Regions from separate parts of the Homo sapiens genome. Here all the other regions are reported to be linked to region 2. Evidence: microRNA targets listed by miRTarBase, many of them from high-throughput screens and not tested one by one. Region 2 holds a microRNA gene; each other region holds the end of a gene's coding sequence.

Evidence for each region. The annotated mature microRNA hsa-miR-513a-3p reads UAAAUUUCACCUUUCUGAGAAGG and lies in region 2 at 4,680-4,702, opposite strand. An mRNA with a match to its seed (bases 2 to 7 or 8) in the 3' UTR can be bound and repressed. Matches are read on the target gene's strand: a 7mer-m8 pairs with bases 2 to 8, a 7mer-A1 pairs with bases 2 to 7 and ends in A, and an 8mer does both.
Region 1: miRTarBase lists MBOAT2 as a target of hsa-miR-513a-3p. Seed matches in the 3' UTR shown: 7mer-A1 at 5,120-5,126, 7mer-A1 at 2,155-2,161, 8mer at 1,824-1,831, 7mer-m8 at 1,684-1,690, 7mer-m8 at 1,580-1,586, 7mer-m8 at 1,481-1,487 and 2 more.
Region 3: the mRNA of SC5D is a reported target of hsa-miR-513a-3p. Seed matches in the 3' UTR shown: 7mer-m8 at 5,276-5,282, 7mer-m8 at 2,615-2,621 and 8mer at 719-726.
Region 4: miRTarBase lists TASOR2 as a target of hsa-miR-513a-3p. Seed matches in the 3' UTR shown: 7mer-A1 at 5,977-5,983.

Annotation. Positions count from the first base shown.
Region 1 is chr2:8,852,619-8,859,742 of GRCh38, forward strand. MBOAT2 (membrane bound glycerophospholipid O-acyltransferase 2) reads right to left here. Exons shown (of 13, transcript NM_138799.4): 13 at 72-6,286. The coding sequence ends at 6,061. Among named protein-coding and RNA genes, the nearest start is that of KIDINS220, 19 kb to the left of the region's middle. RefSeq lists an enhancer at 2,300-2,851 and a silencer at 2,441-2,735.
Region 2 is chrX:147,208,819-147,215,944 of GRCh38, forward strand. It overlaps MIR513A1 (microRNA 513a-1), which reads right to left and starts at 4,773; the gene lies at 4,645-4,773. The region is part of intron 1 of LOC105373347 (periphilin-1); the gene reads left to right.
Region 3 is chr11:121,306,463-121,313,588 of GRCh38, reverse strand. SC5D (sterol-C5-desaturase) reads right to left here. Exons shown (of 5, transcript NM_006918.5): 4 at 7,103-7,126; 5 at 179-6,532. The coding sequence ends at 6,077. Among named protein-coding and RNA genes, the nearest start is that of SC5D, 17 kb to the right of the region's middle.
Region 4 is chr10:5,762,374-5,769,499 of GRCh38, reverse strand. It overlaps TASOR2 (transcription activation suppressor family member 2), which reads right to left. Exons shown (of 22, transcript NM_001321783.2): 21 at 6,854-6,968; 22 at 5,760-6,471. The coding sequence ends at 6,468. It overlaps GDI2 (GDP dissociation inhibitor 2), which reads left to right. Exons shown (of 11, transcript NM_001494.4): 8 at 1,116-1,287; 9 at 2,862-3,006; 10 at 3,205-3,259; 11 at 3,348-4,277. The coding sequence ends at 3,494. Among named protein-coding and RNA genes, the nearest start is that of GDI2, 47 kb to the left of the region's middle.

The sequences.
Region 1 (7,124 bases), not on the chromosome of region 2:
CTCGTAACAGGGCCAGTATTGTTCTATAAGTGGAATTAAAAGCCTAAGATATTAGCAAACACACACACGCATATTTTTAAACTACTGTTTAATCAGTTGTAAAGACACACAAATTAGAAAAAAAAAACATGTCCTAAACATGTTACATGTAAGTTAAAAACACCTTTAAAAACCAGCAATAAGCCACCAGTGCAGCTCTGACAGACTAGAAATGAGTGGTTATGAAATGAGCACATCTCAGTTTGACTGACACAGTGGGAGTTTTAATTTACCGTACATCAGGAACTAATTTATGAATCTGTTGAAAAATAACACTTCTTTAAAAAAATATTTTGGAATAATAAAAACAGAAAGCACAGAACACCACATTCTATTCTCAACTTGGGAAGGCAAATGTAAATACTAAATTCTGGCTGCTGGAGTTGGGTCTCTCCTCATGTTTGGGCGACTGAGGGCTCAACTACTACTAGGCAGAGATCAAGACAACGTTTAAAGGAAGGCAGGAATGAAATCACACATTTTCACTCTGTATATGGAAGAATTTCTCACTTCACCTGAATGATTTACTTTCATTCCTATGGCCTTCTATCGTGCCCCTTCTGGTTCAGAGGAGCAGTCACATAAAAGTGACAAGATGGACAAGACTGGTTTGGAACACATTTGTGTTCAATGTTTGATTCCTTTTTCCTTGTGATAAAGCCAGAGGCAAATGTACTTCATTGATAAATCTGTGTGCGCAGAACCAAAAATACATAAAATTGGGAAAGAGGCATATTTAAAAAGTCTGTCAAACTCTCAACATATATTTTCGTCCTTTAATGCAAAAGGACAGGGGGGAATATTCAAATTGATTTCCCAAGAAAATTAACCTAAAATAGTGAACGTGAAACAGCTAAGACTCTGGTGAAAGGCAGTCAGTCACCTTTCCCATTTCAAACATGTTACTAAGAAACTGCCTAGTCATTTTACTTATGTTGCTCTGTAACTTTTGGTTTTTCACTGTAGCATTTCCATTTATTTTTAGTGTGTGATTTGATAAAACATGGCTGGAGATGGCTATGAATCGCTGAGTAAGCTTCAGACAGCGGTTCTGCATGGGTCATCACACTATAATTTACAGAACATACAGTCTTAGTGTTGTATTTTTTCTTTATAAAAGTTGTACTTAAAGAAGAGTTATAATCAGTTTTAAAGGCAAGACAAATTAGTTGGTGTAAAAACTGTGTATTTAGGCTGTGTTTCACAAAATTTCCCAGTCAATGGCCTATGGAACGTGTCAGTTCTTTATTGGGATTTGCATAATGTTAAAAAACCTATTAAAATAAATATTATTTTAAAACATACAAAAACATTATTCAGCAGCCTACCAATTAAAATGTAATTGGCTGCAACCTCTGTACAAGAAAAGCCTCAAAAAGCAGCTTAAGCATTGATTATAAGAGCTTTCCTACAAAATACCGATGTGGAAAATTTCATTTTAAAATTTCTGTTGTAATCAGAGTTTCTATAAATAGATTTGACTACTTGGTGTTGCAGAAAAACACTGTAGAGACCCTCTATGTTCTAATCTTTCAAACTCAAATTTCAGGGTGTATTTCTCTCCTTAAATGCAAATCTTTTGCTTCAGCATTGGGAGCACGCGTTCATCAAGAAACCCACTTTTACAAGGGCTGGAGAAAACAGAAATTTCAGCATCTAAGATGAGTGTATCAACGACCAGCCACTCATTAAATGCACACTGGGTTAAATGCAGCAGTTTTATAAGGTATTGAGGGCAGTTAAGATTACATCTCACAGTGTTATTTAGGATTCTGCACCTATATTAAATTTCAGCCAGGAAGAACTATTAACGCCTGGATAAAACTCCACAAAATACTAGCTTATATCTAAAACTCTGGACAAATTTTTAGCTGACACAGATATAGTAGGCACTATTCTGAAACAATTATTTTCTCAAGTAATTTTTCTTTCAATTATAATGTAGAACTGTTAAGACCAATTAACTAATAATTGTGAACAGTTGATAAGGAAACAAAAAAAGTATAAATGTCCAGATTTGTTCATGAATATACAAACTAAATACTTACAAGGTATGAACTTTAAATAGGAGAGATTTTTGTCCTAAAACTGTGATCTAGTCCTTGAGTAAAAGTATAAATTTATAATTATTTTAATGGCAAAAATTTTAAAGCTATTGTTTTCTGCGGTTTAAAATAAGGTGTAACTAAACTAAATATGCTTTAAATATCCTTGAATAACTTTGAGATGTTATATAGTGGTAAACCCTGTCCAGTAGTCAGTAATCTGTATAAAATATTTCAGAGCATATATCTTCTCCAATTCCACACAGCACAGAAACCAACAAAGCAGAGAGAGCAAAAGGAAAACATGTTTTCTTCAGCAGAGACTATTTCATTATGAAACACTCATTGTAAGAGCTATTGCCAGTAGAAAAAGTATGTTGCCATGCCTTCTGATTTAAGGGATTCAGAGGTTTCACTGTTATCATGACAACCTTTTGAAATGTCAGGGCTTTGAGCTCAAGTAGTAAGTCAATGACCATGACAATAGTGTGGACTGTGAATGTGCCCAAGTCCTTGAATCCTACAGACCTTGCTAATGGCTCCGTTCACGACACCCAACTGGTCCTGAACTCTTAGGATTAACCCGTTTGCTTATGGCTGAGGAACTTGGGGTCTACAGGACAGGTGGCTCCTCCAAGTCTTAAGTCTCATGAAAGGCAGAACCAGAATGAAGATCCAGGTCTCCTCCTAGGTCAGCTAGTGCTTAAATGTGAGTTACTGTCACTTTCTAGAAACCTCCTTTTTACTGCACATTTTTCTCAAAAGTGGTATGTTTGGAAATCCTGTGTGTGTCACACATGGTGGAGACCAATAAATATATTTTTGAAGCAAATGGGCAGTAGTGGCTAATAAGAGAAGTGGTCACCAGACATTTTTGAAGCCAAATAAATCTTCTCTATCCTGCCGGATATTTTAGAAGCTAAATAAATTCCCCCAATTACCCTGAGTTCCAATAAAAATACTTACTTTAAGAACAGAATGAGCCACTTATAAAATGGTGACAGCTGAGGCATACCAAATTATACTCTTACTGTTTCAAGAAAATGAAATTGAAGGATGAGTAGTTATTTTTGTTCATTTTTTCCCTGAGTAGTATATAATTAACCAAAAGTATAAATATGATGTTGATTGATCATCTCTAGAGTGATTTCATGATACCTGAATAGTGGAAAATATAAAACATAAATATGCATTGAATCTTATTCTATTGATTAAAAAAAAGCAAGCACATAATACAACGAATCCCCTTTCTATTTAACAGGAGTAGACGTACCAGTTTAAAATTCTTCTACTGTAAGTACTAGAAGCAAAATATTAATCTTTGTGATTATTACTTCTCCAAACTAGAGGAGAGATATCCAAAAACCATTTCATGAAAATAACTAGTTGATTCAGGGGTATGAAAATCAGTCAAACTGGATATGGAATTATTATCTTCGAAGGAACCAGAAAACCAATCAAATATCTTGCTTTCTAGATGACAGTGCCAAGATCATATTCACTGAGCAAGAAACAGGTAACAGTGACTAAGGTTTACAGGCTGAGAAATAAATTCAGGTAACAGAAATGTGATTATTTGTAGGTGGCTAGATAGGCTGAACCAAAAAAAAACACACACACACACACACACACACACACGAACAAAACCCAACAAGTTTGTATTAAGCCTTCTTGTTTTCACTTATGACATGCCTGAACCTGTCTTTTAAATTCTTAATTTGTTCACTTTCTCTTAATAGCAGTCGGATTCTCTGCAACATTAATGAAAATGATCAAACATTTTACAGGGCAGGTACATTCCATGAACATTCTTTCTATTCTCTCACATTAAACAGCTGGCATAATTTCTTTTTTCTTTTTTTTTTTTTGTGAGACGGAGTCTTCCTCTGTCACCCAGGCTGGAGTGCAGTGGCACAATTTTAGCTCACTGCAACCTCCACCTCCCAGGTTCAAGCAATTCTCCTGCCTCAGCCTCCCAAGTAGCTGGGATTACAGGTGTGCGCCACCATGCCCGTCTAATTTTTGTGTTTTCAGTAGAGACGGGGATTCACCACGTTGGCCAGGCTGGTCTCCAACTCCTGACCTCAAGTGATCCGCCCACCTCGGCCTCCCAAAGTGCTAGGATTACAGGTGTGAGCCACCATGCTCAGCCAACATAATTTCAATGCATGGGAAAACAGAGGAAATTTATTTAGTTATCAATCCTTTCCTGGGTAGGGTTAGCCTTATCAGCCGGAAAACACTTACTTTTAGATAAATAAAAATAGATTAGGATATTTCTAAACTTCAAAAAAGACACATGCCCATTTTTGCTGAGACCTCAAAAGCTGCAAGTGCATTTGCTTTTCCTTTCTTCTTTAAATGAAGTATTATATAGCATAAGCCAGATGGTTGCCTTGTCTTTAACTTCATTTGCAAATTTATTAGTGACTCCACCCCCCGAAAAAAAGAGAGAGAGAACCCCATCACAGAAAATTTGCATTTCATTAAAAATTTAAGGCAAAAAGTAAAAGTAAGTTCCATACATAGGTCAAACAAAGGTGAAGTCAGAAGGCTTTGCCCCCTCCCCTCCTACAGGGCAGGAGGTACAATCTGGGGCTGAGGCCACTCCACTGCCTGGCATCAAATCCCACTCTTCTGCTTTCAGCTCCTGTGGCCACCACAGTCCTCTGTGGGATCGCAGGAGATGCTTAGTAATCCAAGGCAAGATTAGTTGTGGTAAAAATGGCCCATAAAATAAAAGCACATTTTTCCACTTACAGAACCTAAAACTCATTTTAGTAAGAGTTCACAGCAAAATTTTAATGTGAGAAGAGTTTGAAACTGAATTTATATTATTCTTAAAAAATGTCACCCAGACTCAGTGACTTTTATTTTTCATTTCCCTAAAAGTTTCCCAAATATGAATTAAATTGTCAAGGATAAGAAATGGATTAGCCAGATAGTAACCTACCTAGCGATTTCTCTTTCAAAACCTTTGAGCAACCTACCAGTATTATTTTCAAAGCCTCTAATTCTACATAATTTATGCCTGATAAATTTAATTTAGAAGTCCAAAGTATCACGAAGTCATTCAACTTTTTTTTTAAGTCTCACATGACGGCGCAGAGCCCTGGCATGGGGGGGAAGCTGCCTGCAGAGTCGCGGCTGTGCCCCGTGCATTCCACCGGAGGCCACGCAGTGCTTCTTCATTCCTGCCTTCCTTCGTCACCTCTCTCTTTTAAGAAAAAGAATAAGCTTAAAATATCACATTACCAAACCTCTCATTATGTTTTAAGAGATTCCTTCTGGAAGCGCTCTTTGACTGCACAAGGTAATTAAACTCTCCAGCAAAATCAGCTACCTATAATTTGGCGTCCATTACTGTTTACAGTTTCACTATGGATTGTAGTCATTTGACATACTTTAAGAAAACCCTTCAAATACTGAGATGTTTATTGCATTTTAAAAATATCCACACTCTTAAATATCCTGTTTCAAATTCCTCCTAAAATCCTTTACAGCACACAACATCAACTACTGCAGTAGCGTTCTCACAATATTACACTTGAAAATACCATTTAGGAACAATATTTTAGGAAATAGAGGGTTTAAGGCAAGACATTCATTTGGAAAAGTTAATTTCTCTCTATCATCCAGATTGACACGATTATTTTTCCACCTCTTCAGTGCCTTGGGATACGCAACATACATTCAGCAACAGGGCACGCGTGTGACCCTACGGACAAGTGCTGAGGTTGGGAGTGCCCACTGAAATATGGAAATATTCTTACATAAGGCGTGGCCCACGGAGACATGGCATGGGAGGGCTTGTTTCACTCCATTTCCAATCTGGTGTACAGGAAATTCCTTATCTATAACTGTCCATTTCCCCCCAGTTAACTGCTTTTCCAACAAACTCAAACCCCTTGAAAAGGTGCTAAGATTGGTTTCTGTTAACATCAAAAAAAAAAAACAGCCCTCAGAGCCTTCCCGATCACTGCTTTAGTGATGAATGTCTCGAGGCTATTTCTTGATTCTGATTGCAAACATTGTTTGTTGTAGAAAAACTGTTCTGTCCCAAAGAATTTTCTCCTTCATCAAACTTTTTGGATTGTGAGAGCTGAATGTTTTCATGTGTATTCTTTCTTCTTTGAGTTTTTTTCACTGGCAACAACAATAATACTAAGATACCAAGAATGTGCAGGCAATAATACCAGGAGCTAAAAGAAAAAGGGAAAAAGTTTATTAAAACTTGATAATTAATAATCCTTAATAACTGCACACTTGTCAAAATGTCACATGGCCCACCTTAGGATGTATTTGTTTACTACATTACTACATTATTCTTTTATTTTTCCCCCTCAGGAGAAGAAACCTGACAGTGTAGGCCAGTGGGTATTTATAGCACTGGATAAATCCAGGCTAATTAGAAGCCTGATTTTCTAGATAGCATATTACATTCCTTTGTAAGGGTCAGAAGGCCATGGTTAAACAGAATAAAAACAAAAATGTACATATTAATACCGGTAGCAATCTGAAAATCTCCCCAATCCAGATAATCAAAAGTTGAGTCAACAAAGAAAATGTGGAGATAGTTAAGACTTTTACCAGTCTGGCCTCACCTGCTATTTACTGTCTCTAAGTTACAAATATTCTAACGGAGGGGAGTGACAGAGAAGCAATATTGCTTCTTGATGGTTACTTTCATGAAGCAAAGAAAGGCCACATTATTAAAAATATTGAAAACATCATTTCTCAAATTATATAAACCAAATGTAACCTAAACTGTATCTATAACTGTAAGTTCAAGTGATTCTGAACAAAGTTCCTGGGATAGAAAATCTAACCCACAGCCCAATCACATTTTTAAACATGTACTAATTTTGTTAAAATGGAAACTGTAGCAGGACTTATTTAATGTCTTCCTGTATAATTATTGTCATATTTGATTCAATAATTTTTTTACGACTCTGTGCTAAGTCATTCTAAATGCTAGAGTAATAAAGAATTTATAAAAGAATAAAGTTTTTGATCTCTAAAATATCACCATCTAATATG
Region 2 (7,126 bases):
TGTGATTGGCACCCCCACACAGAGTCCACCCTGAGCACTGCCTAGTGGAGCTCTGAGAAGAGTGCCACCATCCTCCAGACCCCAGAATCATAGATCCACTGACCGCTTGTAGTTAGGCCTGGAAAACGCGTAAGCACTCAGTGGCAGCCCACTGGGGGCTAAACCATGTAAAGTCACAGGGTTGGAGCTGCCCAAGGCTTTGGGAGCCCAACCCTTGCAGCAGTGTGCCCTGGATGTGGGACATGAAATCGAAGGAAATCATTTTGGAGCTTTAAGATTTAATGACTTCCCTGCTGAGTTTCAGACTTGCACAGGACCTGTAGCCCCTTTCTATTGCTGATTTCTCCCAAGTATTTACCCAAAACTTATGCCTCCATTGTATTTTAGAAGTAATTAACTTTTTTTTTTATTTTACATGCTGATGGGCAGAAGGGATTAGCCTTGTCTCAGATGAGACTTTGGATTGTGGACTTTTAGGTTAATGCTTCAATTAGGTTAATGCTTGGGGGACTGTTGGGATTGTATTTTGCAACGTAAGAAGGACATGAGATTTGGGAGGGGCCAGAGCAGAATTATAAGGTTTGGATCTGTGTCCCCACCCCAATGTCAGGTTGGATTGTTCCCCAATGTTGGAGGTAAGGCCTGGTGGGAGGTGATTGGATCATGGGGGTGGAATTAAATAGTGGAAAACAATGACTATTTAAAGTGGAATATGTTAGTAAATCTGAGAGAAAGTAGAAAACACTTAGAAAACATTTCAAATATTTAAAATGCTATAAAAGCAAGTCAAAAATCAGAAAAAAAATTGTATGCTAGAATGAAACATGGCATGTAAAATTATGTTTCAAAATTATTTACTAGGCTACTGCATGTTTTTACAAAATATTCATGATGCATTATTTGAAATCATTTATAAGAGAATGGCACAAAATTGTTGACCTCAACCTAAAACCTAAGTATAAATACAGATAAATATGTGGAAAGATCCACCTATAAATTTTATCAAGTATTATATCCACATTATGATGTTACTGGTATTATGGTATTATTTCATTACTGCTATTCAAGTTTTTCATACCTTTTATGTGTTTTCCAAGTTATTCTGCAATAAATAGGAATTATGCTCATGGTCAGAAAAAAAAAGATATCAACAAAAATGTATTTTTCTTTGGCAGAATTCTGATAAGAATAACTTGGAAAAGTGTAAAATTTGTTTTTGGCAGTTATTTTTCCTCTTTTGACTCCCTAAATCTATATATACTCAGCCTGTTCAGTTACACTTCTTGCCTTTCCATGTTCCTGACTACTAACCATAATAAATGTTAACTTATTATAAATTATGAGGATAAACAGATATATTCACATTAACGATGTGACAGATTACAGTATAGCAAGGAAGGTCCAGAATGAATGCATTAAATGCGATTTTTTTCATGTGCAGGGACTACAATACAGATCAAAACATCCTCAACACATGCTAACAGAACTGACATTTTATTGAAAAACACAGATAATTTTTTAAAACTGGTAAAATTCTTAGTATACACAGGAGTGCTAAATTATATGTATTTATGCTGATATATGTTATTACATTATATATTAAATGTTATTTACCATATTATTAAATAACATATATTTTTAGTCTTCTATAGATTGACTTTTATTATCTCAATGGTCTTCTTTGAAGACCAATTTTAATTTTTTCAAAGTCTATTTTATCAACTTATTTTTAATCAATTTTATGTTTATATTTTGATATCATATATAATTTAATGGTCAAAAATATTTTCTGTCATTTTTTTTTCATAGAATTTTATAGCTTGACATTTTGGCCTAAGAGTGTGTTAATTTCTGTATATGGTTTGAAATATGGATCAAAGTTCATGTTTTTCATATGTGTATCACATTTTCCCAGCATCATATTGTTTAAATACTATCATTTCTTCATTAGATTGACTTTACAATTTAGTCAAAATGAATTGGTGACATGTATGGGTAATTCTGGTCCTTCTATTTCTATTCATCCATCCTTTCTTGAGGCTCACACTACATTGGCTAAACTAGTTACAGAGTAAATCTGGAAATTACCAGTGTAGATTCTCCAAGTTTGAGATTCTCTTTCAGATTGTTTTGCATATTCTAGTTTATTCACCTTTTATATTAGCTTTGGAATCATCATGCTAATGTCTACAAATATTTTTCTGGGACATTGGCTGGAATTGCATTAACTCTATAGATCAATAAGACTCTATAAATCTATAGATTTGAATCCTTCAATCCGTAAATATGATACTCCTCTCCACTTAATAATTATTTACTTTTTAAGTGTGTTTACTTGCACTCTTAGCATACAGATATTTTTGGTTTTTAATTGATAACTGTAACAAACTGCCACAAATTTAGTTGTTTACACAACACAAATATATTAGAGTCTAAAGGTCAGAAATCTAAATTAGGTTTATCTCAGCTAAAATGAAGGCATTGGCAGGGCTTTGTTCCTTCTGTTGGCTCCAGAGGAGAATCTACTTGATTGTCTTTAGAAGATCATTCTTTGGCTCATGGACTTTACCTCCACCTCTATTGAATACTGTAGCATTTTCCAATGTTTCTCTTATTCTAACCACCTTCCTTCTACTTATAAGAACCCTTGTGATTATGTTGGACTCACCTAGATAATCTAGGATAATCCCAATCTCAAAATATTTAGTCATATCTGCAAATTTCCTTCTACCATAAAATGTGATGTTTTTGAGTTCAGGGGTTGCTCTGTAAACATCTTTTGGAGGGGGACTGTTATTCTGCATACCACAGAGATCCTATAATTTGTATTTAGAGTTTCACCTAAATATGTTATGTTTATATTATTTTATGTTTTAATTAGGTGGATTTAATCATTGTATAATATATACATATATCCAAACATCATGTTGTACACCTTAAATATATACAAAAGTTATGTCAGTTAAACCTTAATAAATTGGTAGAAACACGGATGAATGATACAAAAAAGTATTTCACTGAAAGAAAAACCACAAATAACAGTGAATAGAGTACTCTTTTGAGAAATCATAAAAGAGATATGATACTAACTAAATTCTCTTCTTTCGTTTTAGGATATGACTTAAAATTATATAAGTACACATGCATTCACTATAATACAGTTTTAGAAATTATATACTAAAAAGTGTTATCACTTTGGAAATTTCTATGTACATACAGCATTTCCAACTGACAGAATTTTTTTACTGTTCAGAATGTTCCCCCGCCCCCAATGAAAAAGATGCTATGTAATCTATTAGAGCAATTGTTTTAATATTGAAAAAGATACTTCAACTGATTGTTTTTTTACTTCCAGACATTAATGGTCTTAAACATATTCATCCATTCTGAACGTAACAAAACAAACTAAAATCCTGCCTGTAACCATATAGTAATTGTTTTTTATACTTTCTCCCTTTTGATGTATATGCTATAACCTCTATTTCCATTGGAATCAAATTTGTATTAATAACTTACTATTTATAACATTTTTAACACATTTCTGCAATATAAGTAGCTTATTTATAACCTACTTCTCAAAAATGCATACTAGTTTCATGCTGCAGATGGCCTCACACCATCCGGCACTTGTCTTACTCTTTTGCCCTCTCTCTCTTTTTTTGTGTGTTTGTGTGTGTGTGTATTTCCCTCTATCTCTCTCCATTAGGTTAAGAGTTAAGAAGTGTCAACACAAGAAAATGGGACCAGGCGTGGTGGCTCACGCCTGTGATCTCAGCCATTTGGGAGGCTTAGGTGGGTGGATCAGGAGGTCAGCAGTTCGAGACCAGCCTCATCAACATGGTGAAACCCCATCTCTACTAAAAATACAAAAAGTAGCCAGGTGTGTTGGGGCACACCTGTAATCCCAACTACTCGGGAGGCTGAGGAAGGAGAATCCCTTGAACCTGGGAGATAGATAGAGGTTGCAGTGAGCCCAGATCACACCGCTGCACTCCAGCCTGGGCGAAAGAGCAAGACTCTGTCACACACACACACACACAAAGAAAATGGGGAGAGAAGACTAGGAGATATCTCTTGAGTATCAATTCCATCATACCCTTCCATTGTTCATACATATTCTTAAAAAACGGGGAAAAAAGATAATGAAAAAGAGTGAAATATTCTTGGGTGGACTATGCTTAATCCTTCATAAATTGGTGACTTAAGGCTTTGAAAGGTATTTTAAAAGTCAATGAGAAAATGTTTTAGTCTTTGACAGAAAATGGACGCTGTGGATCAGCAATGAAGGGACCTGAGAGGCAGGAGAGTCTTTTGGGAGCGCTAAAGGAGAATCCTTGCAAATGATGACTAGTTGATAAGTGAAAAAAGTTTAGAGAATTTAGGAATCTGGAGTAAAGCATTCCAGCTGACGAAGAATGGCTGTGGCCTCTATCCAATGTATTTCCTATTTGAGCCAAGCCTCATTTGGCAAAAATAAATTCTTAAGGAACCTAAGTGCATGCGTTTTCTCAGGAGTCCACAATTCCTATGTACAGTCGTCTAGAAGGCACAAAAAGTTCCTTGAAGTGTAGCCCAGCACTGAGGAGTGGGTGCACAGGATGCAAAACAGGCATCACCATGCTCGCAGCTACACCCCCATCCTCAGGGACACCACATATGCAGTGCATGCTGTACATTACCCTTCTCAGAAAGGTGAAATTTATATTTTAGTTCACATAAATGACACCTCCCTGTGAAAGGCACTGTACGCTGAATGGCTGAATGTGGCATCCCAGACCAAATGCTCCCTTTTCATGCTGTTTTTATTCAAGTCCCTATAGGTGTATGCCTTCGCATGGCCACCAAGATTTATGCCAAGGGACAATGCAACTTGTAACCCCCAGCACTCCCCTTTTCATCCTGCCCCGAGTGAGATTTTGACATGCAGATTTTTGTTTTGTTTTTGTTTTCAGATGAAGTCTGGCTCTGTCACCCAGTCTGGCATGCATTGGCGTGATCTCAGCTCACTGCAACCTCCGCTTCCTGGGTTCAAGCACTTCTCCTGCCTCAGCCTCCCGAGTAGCTTAGGTTAAAGGCACACACCACCTCGAATGGCTAATTAACACGCAGATTTTTAGACTGATCAAGAATAGAGCTTTTCACTTCATCTCTTCCCCAAAGGCGAGTAATCCTTGTCTGAATTATCCCATTAGTTTTCACGTTAATTTGCTTGTCTCATTAAAAATCCTCAAAATCAGGCCAGGCACAGTGGCTCATGCCTGTTATCCCAGCACTTTGGTAGGCCAAGGCTGGTAGATCATCTGAGGTCAGGAGTTTGAGACCAGCCTGGACAACGTGGTGAAACTCCATCTCAACTACAAATACAAAAAATCAGCCGGGTGTGGTGGTGGGTGACTGTAACCCCAGCTAATCTGGATGCTGAGGCAGGAGAATCATTTGAACCCAGGAGACAGAGGTTGCAGTGAGCCGAGGTTGTGCCGTTGTGCTCCAGCCTGGGCAACAAAAGTGAAAATCCATCTAAAAAAAAAAAAAAAAAATCTTCAGAGTCGGCCGGGCATGGTGGCTCATGCCTGTAATCCCAGTACTTTGGGTGGTCCAGGTGTGCATATCACTTAAGGCCAGGAGTTTGAGACCACCCTGGCCAACATGGTCAAACACCATCTCTACTAATAATACAAACTTAGCGGGGTGTGGTGGCTCGCGCCTGTAATCACAGCTACTCAGGAGGATCACTTGAACCTGGGAGGCAGAGGTTGCAGTGAGCGGAGATAGTGCCAATATACTCCAGCCCGGGTTACAGAGTGAGACCCTGTCTCAAAAAAAAAACAACAAACAAACAAAAAAACCCCAAAAACTTTTAAAATTACAGTTAAGTAGGCAGGGCCAACCACTCACCAAAGCTCTCTATGGTCCTAAAACTCCAGCTGTGCTGCACAGACCCTAATTCCAATGGAAAAACCACAGAATACAACCACCTGGATCCAAACTACTAGAGAAGAGTCAGACAGTACCAGGTTGGAGAGAGCAGAAATTTAATTTCTTCTTCAGGCTATGCAGTGGGAAGAACCCATAGAAATTAATACGAGAGACAGACAAGACAGATAATGGGCTGGAAGACAAGAAATGCTATTTAATTTTTCTTAGTTCCATGGTTCTTTATAGTACATTTATTTGGGCTCAGTCTCTCTCTCTCGCTGTGTGATTAACAATTAATAGTGCTAGGATTTTTTAGCTTTAATATTTACTGTTTGCATTAATATATTTTCCATCCTTTTACCCAACTTTCACGTAGGTCTTCATATTTAAAATGGTTTCGTTTTAGAAAGTGTACAGCTGTTTCTTATTTTTACATAATTTGACAGTGTCTCTCTTAATTGAAGCATTTATATCATTTATTATAATTATTTATGTACATGCGTTTAAATCTACTGGCTTTCTAGTTGTTTTCTGTACTTCATCCTTTTGTAATTCCTAATTTTCCTGTTTTTCTGCCTGATGGTAGATTTAGTATTTTTATCATTCAGTTATATTTTCTGCACTCTTGGCTTATTAGTTGGTCACTTTAAAAGAATAGCGGTTGCTCTGGAGTTTTCAGTGTTCATATTTAATTCATCACAGTCTATCTATCTTCAAAGAATATTTTACTAGTTTATGAACCCTGAACATTTGAGACAGGTCTCAGTTAATTTCAGAAGTTAATTTTTCCAAGGTTGAGGATGCACACCCATTACCCAGCCTCAGGAGGTCCTGAGGGCGTGTGCCCAAGGTGGTCAGAGCACAGTTTGGTTTTAAATATTTTAGGGAGACATGAGACATCAGTCAAAATATGTAAAATGAATGTTGGTTAGGTCCGGTCCAAAAAGGTGGGACAATTCAAAGTAGGGAGGAGGCTTCCAGGTCACAGGTAGATGAGAGAGAAATGGTTGCATTCTTTTGAGTTTACTGATGAAGGTTTCCAAAGAAGGCAATCAGATAAACATTTATCTCTGTGAGCAGAGGGATGACTCTGAATAAAATGGGAGGCAGCTTGAATTTTCCCTTTAACTTAGCGATTTTGGGACTGAGATATTTCCCTTTCACATCCATATCTTCATCTTTACCATTTTCTGGGTTTCGAATTTTTATG
Region 3 (7,126 bases), not on the chromosome of region 2:
GGGAAAAATGGAATTCTCATCATTGGGAGCAGGAGGGTAAAATGGTACAACCCTTTGGAAAATAGTTTCACAGTGTTTTATAAAATTAAACGTATACATATATATCTCTTCCCTATGACCCAGCAAATCTAATAGATATTTACCAACGAGAAATAACAACATATAGCCACACAAAGACTTGTATACAAATGTTTGTAGCAACTTTATTCATAATAATCCCACGCTGGAAATAACACAAATATTCATCAGCAAATACATAAACCAACTGTGGTATATTACAATGAAATACTATTCAGCAATGAAAACAAAAAGCTACAGACACAGGCAACAGCAAATATCTCTAAACATGTTAAGCTAAAGAAACTAAACACAAGAGTATATACTATCTGATTTAATTTATATGAAATTCTAAATCAGGGAAGAAAACTAACCTTCCAGTAACAGAAGGTGGATCAGTGGTGACCTAGGGCTGGGGAGAATGACTGCAAACGGAGAGGAAATTTATTCTGGTAAGAAAATGTTCTTTACTTTGATTGGGGGTGGTGGTTACATGGGTGTACACGTTCATCAAAGATCATTGAACTCTACAGTAAAAATGGCTACACTTAATTATAGTAAATTATAATTTCATTAAGTTGATCAGAAAGAAAAAACGTCCCAATGAAGCGACAGACAAAAGTCACCACACCAGTGTCTGTCTTAATATTTGAATATGCACTAAATTTCTAGGTTTCTATTTGTTTCATACCACATGTCAGGGGGGCAAGTTTACATCTAAATAAATGGCTTAATGAGTTAAATTATAATAGAGGAAGATATTTTTATATATATATACTTTTTTATTTTTAGAGATAGGGTCTTGCTCTGTCACCCAGCGTGGAGTGCAGTAGTGCAATTATAGCTCATTGCAGCCTAAAAGAGGAAGATATAACAAAATTATTCAAGAAATGAATAAAAGCCTATGGTATGAGTGCTTTCCAACTGAGTGATTAACTTTTGATATGCTATTTTGTCTTTGTTTGAATCGTGAGTTGTGAAGTGTTTAGAAAAATCTGTCAAGTACACAAGTCTGCTTTTTTGGTAGTTGGATCAAAATATTAAATCTCTTATCAAATGTTTAAGAAAATGTGATTAATAAAATATGTAAATGGTATTAAATGTTCAGGATAATTGGAATTTACAAATTGTTAAAGAAATGGGAATGTAATTTCTCATTTTTATCAAATTTACTGTTCTTATATCTTCAAGTTGAGCTTAGAGATTTAAAAATGCTGTATTTTAAATGTATTTTAATAAAGCAAATATTAAAACAAGTATTTATAAGTATTTTTCTTCCCATACCAAAAGCCTGCTTTGACAGTAAAGCTTGTTGACACATGGTTCAAACACTTCCTTCCTGCCTTTAAAAAATTTATTCTGCTTTTCAAGGAAGGTATGTTTCTATTTTATCTACAAACCTTGTAGACTGGCCTTATGGTTTTAGCAATATAAAAACACACAAAGTGATGCATTTTTTAAATGAAATTATTTAACAACACAATGTATTTTACCACTCTTACAAAGATAACTTACAGTAAATAATGTTAACGATGTTAGTTTTACTTATACGATTTTTCTGTGTACCCTCTATCTCTACTTCACCTCAATGTCTTTCACCCTCCAATTTTAAGGTGAAAATATCTAGGCTTCTGCCCTCTGCAACTGATTTCTATTGAGGGCCTATGGAGGTAAAATGACAATAATCATTGAATCTAGAAAGAAAAAGCATCAAGCACAATTTACATGAACAATAGTTTCAGTTGACATTTAACTGAATGCTTCTAACTTATTTAATCTTATTAGATAGGCAGTGTTTTAATCAATTTACAGATGGAGAAACCAGGGATGGTGCAACTTGCAAGTGGCAGAGCCCTGTTTATCTCCAAAGTTCCTGTTCCTCTGAGATGAAGTTATAGATTAACCTAAGTTTGTCCTTTCTTGATGTAACCAACTAATATCTTTGAGGATCTTTTTTCTTTTACCCAGAGTGCTGTGTTAAGTGCTGAGTATACAGATTCATTCAACCCTCTAACCAGTCCTTGTAGTACTGATTCATCTGTGGTCAAAATCTGGGGTACTGGTGGGTTTTGTTTCCAAAGGGTTATGACTTTGAGTGACTAAAAAAAGATAGTTTATCCTTGATGTAGGGACCATCTTTGATTTCTCATTACTTCCCCTTTTGACCCCTCCAAAGCACTTAGCAAATGTCAGCTAATGAATAAATGATAAAAAAATGGTTGGCCAAAAAGACAGCATCAGAAGAGAATTTTTACCTAGTGCAGTGCTTAGCACCTATCAGGGATTTATTAAACATATATGGAAGAGAATGACATTTCTGCCATTTTATTAATAAATTCAACAAAGTATTTATTGAACTTTAACCATGGCTTGGGCATTTGTTAAGGATGAGTGGTTTAATACAATGATGATTCAGACACGGTCTCTACTTCCAAGGAATCTGGCATCTCAAATAGGTAAGACACACATAAAAGTAATAGGTGATAGCAGTAAGTGCTGAAATAAGACTGTCATTCAAGTGTTGTGAATTTGAAGAAGTTGGGAAGATCAGGAATGCAAATTTCTTCCCCCTTGTCTTAGTCCATTTGTACTGCCTTAACAAAGTATCTTCAACTGGGTAATCTATAAATAATAGAAATTTATTTTCTTACAGCTCTGGAGGCTGGGAAGTCACGGTTAAGCACCAGTTGGTTTGGTGTCTGCTGAGTCCCCAGTTGCTGCTTTCAAGATGGTACCTTGTTGCTGGGTCCTCACGTTAGAAGGGACAGAAGGGGCTGGGCATGGTGGCTCACACCTATAATCCCAGCACTTTGGGAGGCCGAGGCAGGCAGATCATGAGGTCAGGAGATCAAGACCATCCTGGCTAACACGGTGAAACCCCATCTCTACTAAAAATATAAAAAATTAGCCGGGCGTGGTGGTGGCGGGCACCTGTAGTCCCAGCTACTCGGGAGGCTGAGGCAGGAGAATGGCGTGAACCCGGGAGGTGGAGCTTGCAGTGAACCAAGATCACGCCACTGCACTCCAGCCTGGGGCAACAGAGCAAGACTCCATCTCAAAAAAAAAAAAAAAAAAAGGGACAGGAGACAGAAGGGCTGAACAGCTGCCTCACACCTCTTTTTAAGTCATTAATCCCAGAGCCCTCATGACTTAATCACTTCCTCAAGGCCCCACCTCTACATACTATCTCACTGGCAAATACATTTCCACATTTGAATTTTGGAGGACACATTCAGACCACTGCACCCCTCAAGTTGGTTAGTGTCTTTGAATATCTTTTTTCATGCTGTGACAATCTCATGGTTTCAAACTTTTCTTCTATCTGTGTTAATCCCAAATATCTTTGTTCTCAGTCATCTCCCTAGTTTCCATCTTTCTCCCAGACCTCCTCTCTACATAAATAACCTGCATGCACTGTAAAATCCATGTATCAAAAAACTGAACTTGTGTAATTCTCTTCCAAATCTGTCCCCAGCTTCTAGAAGATGGGAGGAAAACATGATACAAGGGTATAAGGAAATTCACTCAGTACTGCAGAGACAGCATGGAAGACAAAGACTCAGTCTCTGTGTTTCTGAAAGGTCTTCTCGAACCATATCCACCCACTTCTCAATTTCTACCACAAAAGTAGAAAACGTAACCTTGATTTTCACTTTCTGTCCTGTAACTATAAAAGTCATCTGTAGAAGGTAATTTGGGTCCTCACTTCCATAAATATTCTCTGACTTCCTCTAATAGAAAGTAGGAGAATGTGGCAGTACTGTATATTACAATGTTAGGACTACTTAACATAACGCTGCTTTAAAAGACCAGAATTTGAGACGGGTGAAAGGGCAGGGGCAAGTTTGATTATTCCTAACATCTATGAGGAAGCCTCTGTCTTCCCCATAGGAAGCTGTCCTTTCTTCTCTATTAGTTATATAGGAATAAGAATCTAGAGGAAGCTTTAAACATTCATATTGGAGTTAAGAATTAAAGACACTGAGATGATTAGTGTGTGGATAACCTGAAATACTTTATGGCTCATTCACCATTTCAACATCAACAAGAGGAGAACACCACAAATACGGCAAACTGTCTAGCTGCTCAAGAAAATGGTGCCCCCTTCCTCCCAGGCACACAGCTGGACACATTTCCCAAAATCTCTCTAGGTGGGCCATGTGACGGAGTTCTGTCCAAAGGAACATGGGCGGAAGAGATATGCACCACTTCCAGGCCTGACCCAGAAACATTTTCCACACAGACTTTTCCTTCTTTTCCTATGTGCTCTTTCAACAAAGAGGGCTCTATGGACTGAGAGAAAGGCAGAGCCCCAAGAGGAAGGAGCCTGGGTCGCAGAAAGACTAGGTGGAAAGCTGTCCACTGACCACAAACATCCACATGGGACATCATATGAGAGAGAAATAAACCTGGGAATAGTTACTTAACTTCTTTGGGTCCTAGTCTCTGGGCAAAGAGGAAAAGCTCAATAAATATCAGCTGACATTATATTAGGAAATAAAGTTTACTTCTCCTTAATTTCTTTTTCTTAGGCAAGGCGGAGCACCGGGGGTGAGTGGGATTGGTGAAAAGCACTAAATGACATTTGCCTATTACAAAATGCTAATTGGTACATTTAAATAAGATGACATTGTGACAATAACTCACAGATTAAAGACATTTTCTTCTGGATCCCAGACATTAGATTTTAAGACTGATTTCTTGCTAAAAACACTCAAATCTAGTTAAAATGTGAAATATAAACAGAATGTGGTACCCACTTCTTTCCCCCTGTGACACTGAGTGTCCGGGGATGTTCTAAAACACAATTAACAATCCACATCATTTCTGTGGCTTCAAATTGGCACAAAATCTGTACAAAGAATACTTTGTGCTGCTATAATACTCAACTGATACAGTTTAATTATGATCAACTTTTATTGATTTTACATAAATAGCTTATAGAATGCCTTTACAAACTATGTTTTTGCAATATATTTGTTACAACACACATTTCCTTATGAATGTATTTGTTAAATCTTTTTGCAGAGGAAGTAGGGAAAAGTGAGGGGAGAAGAGGAGGAATAAGATTTTAGAACTAATCGTCAGCAATGGGCCTAGGTATTTGGCAATTATTTCCTTTACAAAAAAATTACAGGTTTGTAACTTCAAACATCAAAAGTGTAGTGCATCAATTTAACTAAAAAATCAGTAGTGCCTAATATATTATCTGGGCATCAAATTTCTTTTTTTAAATATATCCAGATTCACATATTTTTACTCTTATTAAATAATGGTTTTAAATAATAATCATCACAATGTTTAGCTACATAATCCCAGATCTGGATTAAATCATGGTGATATCGATATTTTTAAATTCCAATTTATTTGTTAATCAGTAAAATGTAATAGGTGATAGTGTGTCCAGAGAATGAGCCTCCTATGTGTAGGAAGACGATAGTCTTATTACACCTGCTATCAATTAGGTCATTTACATAGCTGCTAATGTATCAGAATTTTTTTCCACACTGATGTAGTACTTTATTCAAGTCAAAACAAGTTATCATTATCATACCAACGTTGAAGAATTAACCATTCCTGAAACAAGAAACAATCTTTACATTAGTATTTCTTGGTTATGGTGCTTAGTCTTGGTATTATTAAGCACAATGATTCTTAATAAACATGGGTGGATGAAGGCAAATGCATATAGCCTAGTCCCCTCAATAATTTATTCTCCATCTTATTTAAAATTGTTGTTGAGGCTATACAAACTACAGATCTGCTGCTAGAAAGATACAAGTTGTCCCCCGAACAACATCTGGCATTTTAAGCATAAGATTAAAGTCCTGGTGTTCACAGCATCTTCTTCTGACCTACCACTAGGATCATTCCTCAGCAGTGCCCACGATGCTGATTTCCAAATGATACCATTTACTATGTATCTTGACTGTATGGATATTATTTTTTCCTTATTAAAAAAAAGAAATACGATGATATTTCCTTCTTTGTCCTTACTTAAGAATAACTGGGCAATAATCTATTCAGTCTTTGTAAACTCTCCATTGAATAATTTTTCATTCTTACAGCCATTTCCTGAATGGCTGCTGCGCTTTCCCTCTGTCATCTCCTTCACATAACTGAGCGGTCCCTTCCCCTCAAAGGATGAAGGATTTTTGAATGAGCCGCCAATCCTATCCCACAAAGTGAAATATTGTCCATAATTATAGTCAAAGAACATATGGTGGTCTGTATGATGAGCTGAGCCATTAATAAATGGCTGTAAGATTTGGGGGACACGAAAATCACCGTCATGAATGGAAATTGTCCAGATATTAACCAAGATGTACAGACTTAAATAAACCACCTTGTGTAATGGAAAGATAAAAGGGTATATATGGTAAGGTAGACTCTGAAGAAAGCCATCAATAGGGTGAAAAGCATGACTTGCAAATGGAGTAGGAATCTTCCAAATATGGTGAGGTTTATGTAGGCGCTGCAGGAGAAAAGGACACAATTAGCACTGCAAACTTTACCCCGTGCAACATTCAACTTAGCTTCTCACACTCATGTTGGAAACAACCTAACAAATCCTGTAGAGATCAGCAAAATTATTTATTCTATAAAATGTCCTTCTTCGCCCTAAAACAGTATAATTTTATATGGATTTATGAGTACAAGTGCAGTGGTGTTCCATGGATATACTGCACAGTGGTGAAGTCTGGCTTTTAGTGTACCTAGCACCTGAAGAGTGCACATTGTACCCAATAGGGAGCGTCTCATCCCTCACTCCTCTCCCATCCTCCCACCTTCTGGAGTCTCTAATGTCTATTGTTCCCTCTGTAAGTCCATGTGTACCTGTTACCGGAACAGACGAATTTTAAGACAGCCCCTTAGACCCATAAAGAAGAATATGAACAAAATGCACCCTGTACCTGTTATGATTATGGCTACTTAGACATTTAATATGGGTAGAGGAAATTCTTGGAAATAGAGAACAGAATTTATAATCATACATTGCTGAAATGTGTAACCTTTTTTCTCTTTTCACCACAAATGACTTTACCTTATATACCAGTCTATGATGAAG
Region 4 (7,126 bases), not on the chromosome of region 2:
TCCCAGATTCAAGCGATTCTCCTGCCTCAGCCTCCCGAGTAGCTGGGACTACAGGCATGCGCCACCGTGCCCAGCTAATTTTGTATTTTTAGTAGAGACGAGGTATCTCCATGTTGGTCAGGCTGGTCTCCAACTCCTGACCTCTGGTGATCCGCCTGTCTTGGCCTCCCGAAGTGCTGGGATTACAGACGTGAGCCACCGCGCCCAGCCCTTTGATCATTTTTGAATCAGGGTTTTTTTTGTTGTTGTTTTAGGAGTTCTTGATGTATTGTGGATATTAATCCCTTATTTGCAGATATTTTCTCTCATTCTGTGAGTTGCCTCAACTCTTGATTAGTGTCTTCTGATGCAAAAATTTCTTTATTGTTTTTTTAAAAGAGACAGTGTCTTGCTGTGTGTTGCCCAAGCTGGACTCAAAGTCTTGGGCTCAAGCAATTCTCCTGCCTCAGCCTCCCAAGTAGCTGGGGTTACAGGCACATGCCACCATGCCTGGCTATGCACAAGATTTTTAAAATTTTCATGAAATCCTGTTTTCATGAATTCTTTCCTTTGTTGCCTGTGTCTTTGGTTTTAGATACAAGGAATTACTGCCAACTCCAATGTCATGAAGCTTTTGCACTGTTTTCTCCTAAGAGTTTTATAGTTTTAGATACCACATTTAGGTCTTTGTTCCATTTTTAGTTTTTGTGGATGGTGTCAGGTAGGGTCCAACTTCATTCTTTTGCATGTGGATAGTTTTCCCAGGACGGTTTGTTGAAATGACTTTTTTTCCCCTCATTGAATGGTCTTTGCAACTTTGTCAAAAATCACTGTACTGTGGATGCGAGGGTTTATTTCTGGCTCTCTCCTCGTTTCATTGGTCCATACGTTTGTCATTATGCCAGTACCACACTGAATTGATCACTGTAGCTTTTTAGTGAGTGAGTCCTCCAGCTTTGCTGTTCTTCTTTTAAGATTGTTTTGGTTGTTCCAGAATTCAATCCCTTGGGAACCAATATGAACTTGAGGATGGTTTTTGATATCTTAACAATACTAAGTCTTCCAAACTATGAACATGGGATGTGTTTCCCTATATCCTTGTCCGCTTCAGTGTCTTCTTAAATGCTTTGTTATAGATTGCTCGCTGTAAGCAGCTCATCTGTGACCCCAGCTACGTAAAAGATCGGGTAGAAAAAGTGGGCCAGGTGATCAGAGTTATTTGCATCCTCAGCCACCCCATCAAGAACACCAATGATGCCAACTCCTGCCAGATCATTATTCCACAGAACCAAGTCAATCGAAAGTCAGGTGAGGTTTGAAGACCAGCAGATGTTGGTAGAATTTTGTAAGATATAATTTGCTTTGTGTTTTATCCCAAATTCCTAATTTTGTATGCTGTATTAGTGAACAGACCTTGGTTTACATATGGGGGAAAAAAATCTTTGTACCTCCTCCTGCTCCGGCAGCATTGTGTCAACGCGGACAGATTCAACTCGGAGCCAGCCTTGGACTTGTGTCCATCACCTGTAGAATGAACAGACTGGGCTTGGTGAACCCTGCGTCTCCCAGCTCTAACTAACAGTAGGTTCCTGTGGAGGTTTATGCTTAATAGTTAACTGACCCGAGTATATTCTTGAGCTAATGACATAGCTGCTTCTGTGTCCTTATTTGTAATCCTAGTACCTACATTTGATTCTAGCAGTGTCCACCTTTCATTTCTGTGATCAGGACATGGCTCTAAAATTGCAAGTCCTAACTTATTTGTCTTAGCCAGTTGTTTGTAACCCTTCGATGTTCCCATTTTCCTTTCAACTAGAAGCCCCAAATCTTTTTATTTATCTAAAATTCAGCTTAAAAAGGGTAATCAGGCTTTATGGGACAGGTAAGAGCTATCTGTATAATGATTTTTTTTCCCCCATATAAGAAATGAAATCATGGGAGGCCAAGGCAGGAGGCTTGCTTGAGGCCAGGGGTTCAAGACCAGCCTGGGTAACATAGTGAGAGCTCGTCTCTACAAAAACAAAAAACAAACAAACAAAAATGGCTAGGTGTGGTGGCACACACCTGTAGTCCTAGCTACTTGGGAGGCTGCGGTGGGAGAGGATCACTTGAGCTCAGGAGTTTGAGGTTACTGTAAGCTGTGATTGCATCCCTGTCTCCAACCTGGGTGACAGAGCCAGACTGTTAAAACACAAAAAAAAACCAATCACAAAAGATGATCTGTAGAACAAAGGGACTGGACTTAATCTTCCACAAGGTTCCCAGGCGGGTCCTGGGTCCTTGCAAGTCTGAAAAGAATAAAGGAGGTCCCAGAGTTTTTTTTTTTTGGCCTTTAAATGCTCTCCTATCCAAATGATTTTCTATCCTGGAAATGACACAGTTAACTGGATGAGTGGTATACAGACCAAGTCTAATCGAGAATTCTATCGTTATGCCAACTCAAAAGTGGTTTATGTGGATTCTGCAGTTTTACATTACTGTAATAAGTAAATGAGGACGTCAGTACTAAGTACATCCTTTCTTAGCCATTCAGAACCTTTCTAAATGCAAGGTCCAGAATGGAAGAATCTCCCAGAATAGTTAATATGGTTTGGCAGGTTTTTTAGTTAGGTATGACAGAGCTGTTAAGAGATCTCATTCCAAACTTCAGCAGTTCGCTACCACTTCAATTCTTAATCTCTAGTAGGTTAAAAGAAATTCCTATTGTTAAATATCTGTGTACTTTACATCCAACTCTGTCACCATTTAGAACTTAAGTGTAGAAGATCTTGCCTATTGAGAGTAATTTTAACTCACACCTCATGACATATGGGTGATACCTGAGTATGTTGGGTCCCAGATGGAGACACTTGAGGCAGTGAGCTGGTATCATTTGTTTCTAGATATCTACGTCTGCATGATCTCCTTTGCGCACAATGTAGCAGCACAAGGGAAGTACATTGCTATAGTTAGTACAACTGTGGAAACCAAGGAGCCTGAGAAGGAAATCAGACCAGCTTTGGAGCTCTTGGAACCAATTGAACAGAAGTGAGTTGTGTTCTTTTATATCTGCCGAGATGCAAACTGAGGCCTTTGATTGTGGCTCCATGGTGGGACGAATGTGAGGGCAAGGCAGGTAGCTGCTGGCTGCTCTGTGGGATTCATCTGTACCTCTCAGTTGACCTCAGGCAGAGCCATGGTCAGGTGTGGGACCAGCTCACCTGACTGAATTCTCTCTCCCTCCAGATTTGTTAGCATCAGTGACCTCCTGGTACCAAAAGACTTGGGAACAGAAAGCCAGGTGAGTATGGAAGTGTGAAAGGATATGGGCAGGTTTCACTGGAAGACATCCCTCCATGGTCTTAAGTCTTCGTAATTTTTGTTTTCAGATCTTTATTTCCCGCACATATGATGCCACCACTCATTTTGAGACAACGTGTGATGACATTAAAAACATCTATAAGAGGATGACAGGATCAGAGTTTGACTTTGAGGAAATGAAGCGCAAGAAGAATGACATCTATGGGGAAGACTAACAGCAGTACATGTTATTATGTAATTAGGACACATTTAAAATTTGGCAAATAATGCATATAATGAAATCAATATTGTAAGGCCTGCTTTTGTAATGAAAATGGAGAGAATGAAGAGCGCTGTGCCAGTAAATACTCCCCTTCACCTTTCTAATTATTAACTTGTTTTCATGGAGTGGCTATTCAGCATTGGCAGTTACCACATTCTGTTCAATTTAACCAAACTGGCTTTTTTTTTTTCTAGTGAAGTTAAACAAACATTGGGATACCGACACAGACAACTTGAGACAGTTTTTTTAATCTTTTAATCAGTGTAGCTATGTGCTGCTGCTGCTCAAGAGCTGGATCCATACAGGTTGTGTGTCATCTGTCCTCTTGAGGTTCAGGAGATTCTAAATTGAATATTCCACGGTTTGGGACAGCATCCGGAAGTTTTCCCTATGACTTTATATTTTGTATTATGTCAAATGTTATGGCAGGGCCCAAATAGCATAGCCACAAGTTTGGTTTATGTGGGCATAAAATTCTAACCAAACCCCAGACATAGGGAGTCATTTGGAGAAAGCCTGTATGTGGTGTTTTAACCTAATAAAGTTGATGAGAGAGAAGGGGAGAGGAAGCGAACATAAAGCGGGTCAAGTGTAGTGCATCTTTTGTATCTCAGGCGTGGCTTCTTCAGTGGACCAAGCTGCAATGCAGTATTGACTTGACAGAGCCTCTACTTCTGTCTCAAAATGGCTCCAAATGATTTCTGTACTGCAAAATAAAGCCAAATTCTGGAAACTACTGCCCGGTGTTGGTTTGTGTGTCCTGATTGCAAGGGTCACAGCTGCCGTGCTTCCTTTGGTAGCACTGGAGTCAATGCCAGTCAGAATGCTCAGCAGCGGAAAGCGTGGGTGTCTTCTGATCTGGAAGGATCACAGCAGGTCCTGTCGTCTGGCTTCCCTGTGAGTAGACCTCGAGTTTTATTCTTGACACAGTACCATTACTAGACCTATCATCTTTGTGCAGAAAAAATAGTGTTTAATGATTTTGCTTGTAGCAGCAGTTATAAGGGAGTAAGTGAACTGTCAGGTAGAGTAGGTGCTTTAGTAAATAATTTTTGTGTAGTTGAAATGATAAAGTGTTTACATATAAGGCCCTTTCCCCTGACAGTGATGAGCCTCACGGCAGATGCTGTTGTTTACCACAGATAAACACTGACTCTTCAGAGTATGAAGGAGACAGACTAAGGTAGATGATGTGTTAAAGGAACTAGGGTGGTGATTTAGATTGTTATTCATATTGCCAAAATGATGGAGCTTCTCGACTTCAGTTGATGTTTTGGGCTGGATCATTCTCTGTTGATAGGGTTGATTGTAGCAGCATCCCTGGCCTCCACACACTAGATGGCAACAGCACCATCTTGGAATGACAACCAAAAATGTCTCCAGATGTTGAGAACCACTGCTTTACCTGTATGATAAAATTATCTGAAGTCCCAGCAAGCCTTTTTCTCTTCCCATGCAAAGGCCCAAGCTGGGTTAGTAATAAGTGAAAAAAGAAAAACCACGCATCTTCATATTCTTCATTCAACGTATTTACTGAATACCTTGTGTGCCAGGCCAGTGGAGACAAAGATGATAATGGTAGTTACTGGGATAACTCAGTTTGGTGAACACATGATGTGGTTTGGTTATTAGTAGAGTTACAGAAAAGGTAGCATGGAAACTGAGATGGCCTCGTGGGTGTTGGAAGGCTTTTCAGCAAGGGGAGGTGAATGTTATTAGGTCCAACCTGAAAGGTGCATATTTCAGGCAGATAGATAGGTGTTTGGCATCTTATAACTGCTCACTTTCCTTTTCCTTAGTAATCTGAAAGTAATTCACTGTACTGAATAGTTAATGGTTCCCTTAATAGACTCTTGTCCTTGGAAAAATAAAATGAAATGACTGGGGTTCTATTAGTAACTGAAAAATTGTCAACAATTAAAACTCTAAAACCTACTCATGAGAAAATAAAGCTCTTTTGTTTAGGAATAATAAAAGCCGACTTAATGACTTCTGAAAGAAGTAAGTGTCCCTGTAAAGGCCAGGTGAAACTGCCATTCTTTAACCTGTTACTCGGTGTACTTGACTGCGGAAAGAACCCAGAAACAGAACAGGCCAGGCCCAAAGGATAGAAGTGTAGGTTTCCTCTGGAAGCTTACTGTTCTGCTAAATGACCTAAAAATTGCTAGAACACTCCAGATAAGTCAATTTCTGCTATAAAAATCATTGCAGAAAGAGATTATTTTTAGTTGTCTTTATTTAAAAAATGAAACACATTAGTTACAAAAACCGTTGCTCCAAATAGATACCGTGTATCTTACAAATGTTTTTTGCTTGGTTTTGAGTGTTTACTGTAGAAATTTTCAATATCATAAATAAATGATTATTTCTTTCTCAGAAAGCTGATTTTTGTAGTGTAGTATTTACAAATACCGTAAGTGAAAAATGATAGTTTATAAATTTGTACCATTTAGGAAAAAATGTTTTATGTAGTGTTGTTTGTGTAACAGCAAATAAAACCATTTAAGATTATAGTTTTTACAAGGGTGGTAAAACCTTTAAAACAGAGCATAATGTGCATCGTATGCCTTTCTGACATTAGCATGCAAAAACAAAGCTATTTGTTAAAATAGACTTATTTTTGCTCCAACTAAGTAAACATGTAAAATTATTTTTAATAAGCTCAATAGCTTAGAAGGCATCTTGTTTAAAATGAAAATAATTTAAAACAATATCTAGCACTGCAACCCAAAGCTAACAGACAACTGCAATGCCACTGTGACATATTTCAGCAAAATATAAAAAATGAAAACTTTCCAAGTTGTAGAACATTGGTTTTTCAAATGTAAGACTGTTCACATGTGTATTCACATGTTCACAAGTTTTCCAAAGGGAAAATACTAATTTTTTATTGGCATCATCCATATCCAGGCAGGCTGTAGTTGAGTCACCTGAAGAAACACAAAATTGATAAAGAACTTCTTAAAATAATACGAACAAGAAATATTTTATAAGCGGGATGCTCTAATGGGGAAAACGCCTATGCATTCTAAGGTTACATTATGTTCTGTACTGACGATCCAAGTTAACAGCAAGTGAAAATGCACATTAGATAAAATAGGTAATTTTAGTAGATGGTTACTTCATTTAGTGATAATTTAGGAATTCCTATTTATGCCAAATAGCAATTCCACCCCTAAACAAACACTTTAAATTTATAGCATGAAGTATGTAAACAACAGTTTCCCAACTGTTTCCCTTAGACACAAATGTCAATATTTGCCATCAACAACTCCAACTCACATGGGAAAGTTACATAAAAAGTGTTCTTACCAATAGCTACTCCTAAATGGAGCTGCTATTTTTTCTATGTTTTCTATAAAGTTATTTACATCTGTAACAAGGATTCCACTATTTTCAAAGACTTCTCTGGGGATAGTAGGCTTGTCTGTTAAAAAAAAAAAAAAACAACTTTTGGTTAATATAATTAATGTACTTTTATATAACAGGACCTGGTTTTTTATTTTAAAAAATCTGTGGAACTTCCTCGTGTGAGGGGTAGGGGGAGAAAAGGTGTTGGGTTCCAAATTAAGAAAAGATTTGAAG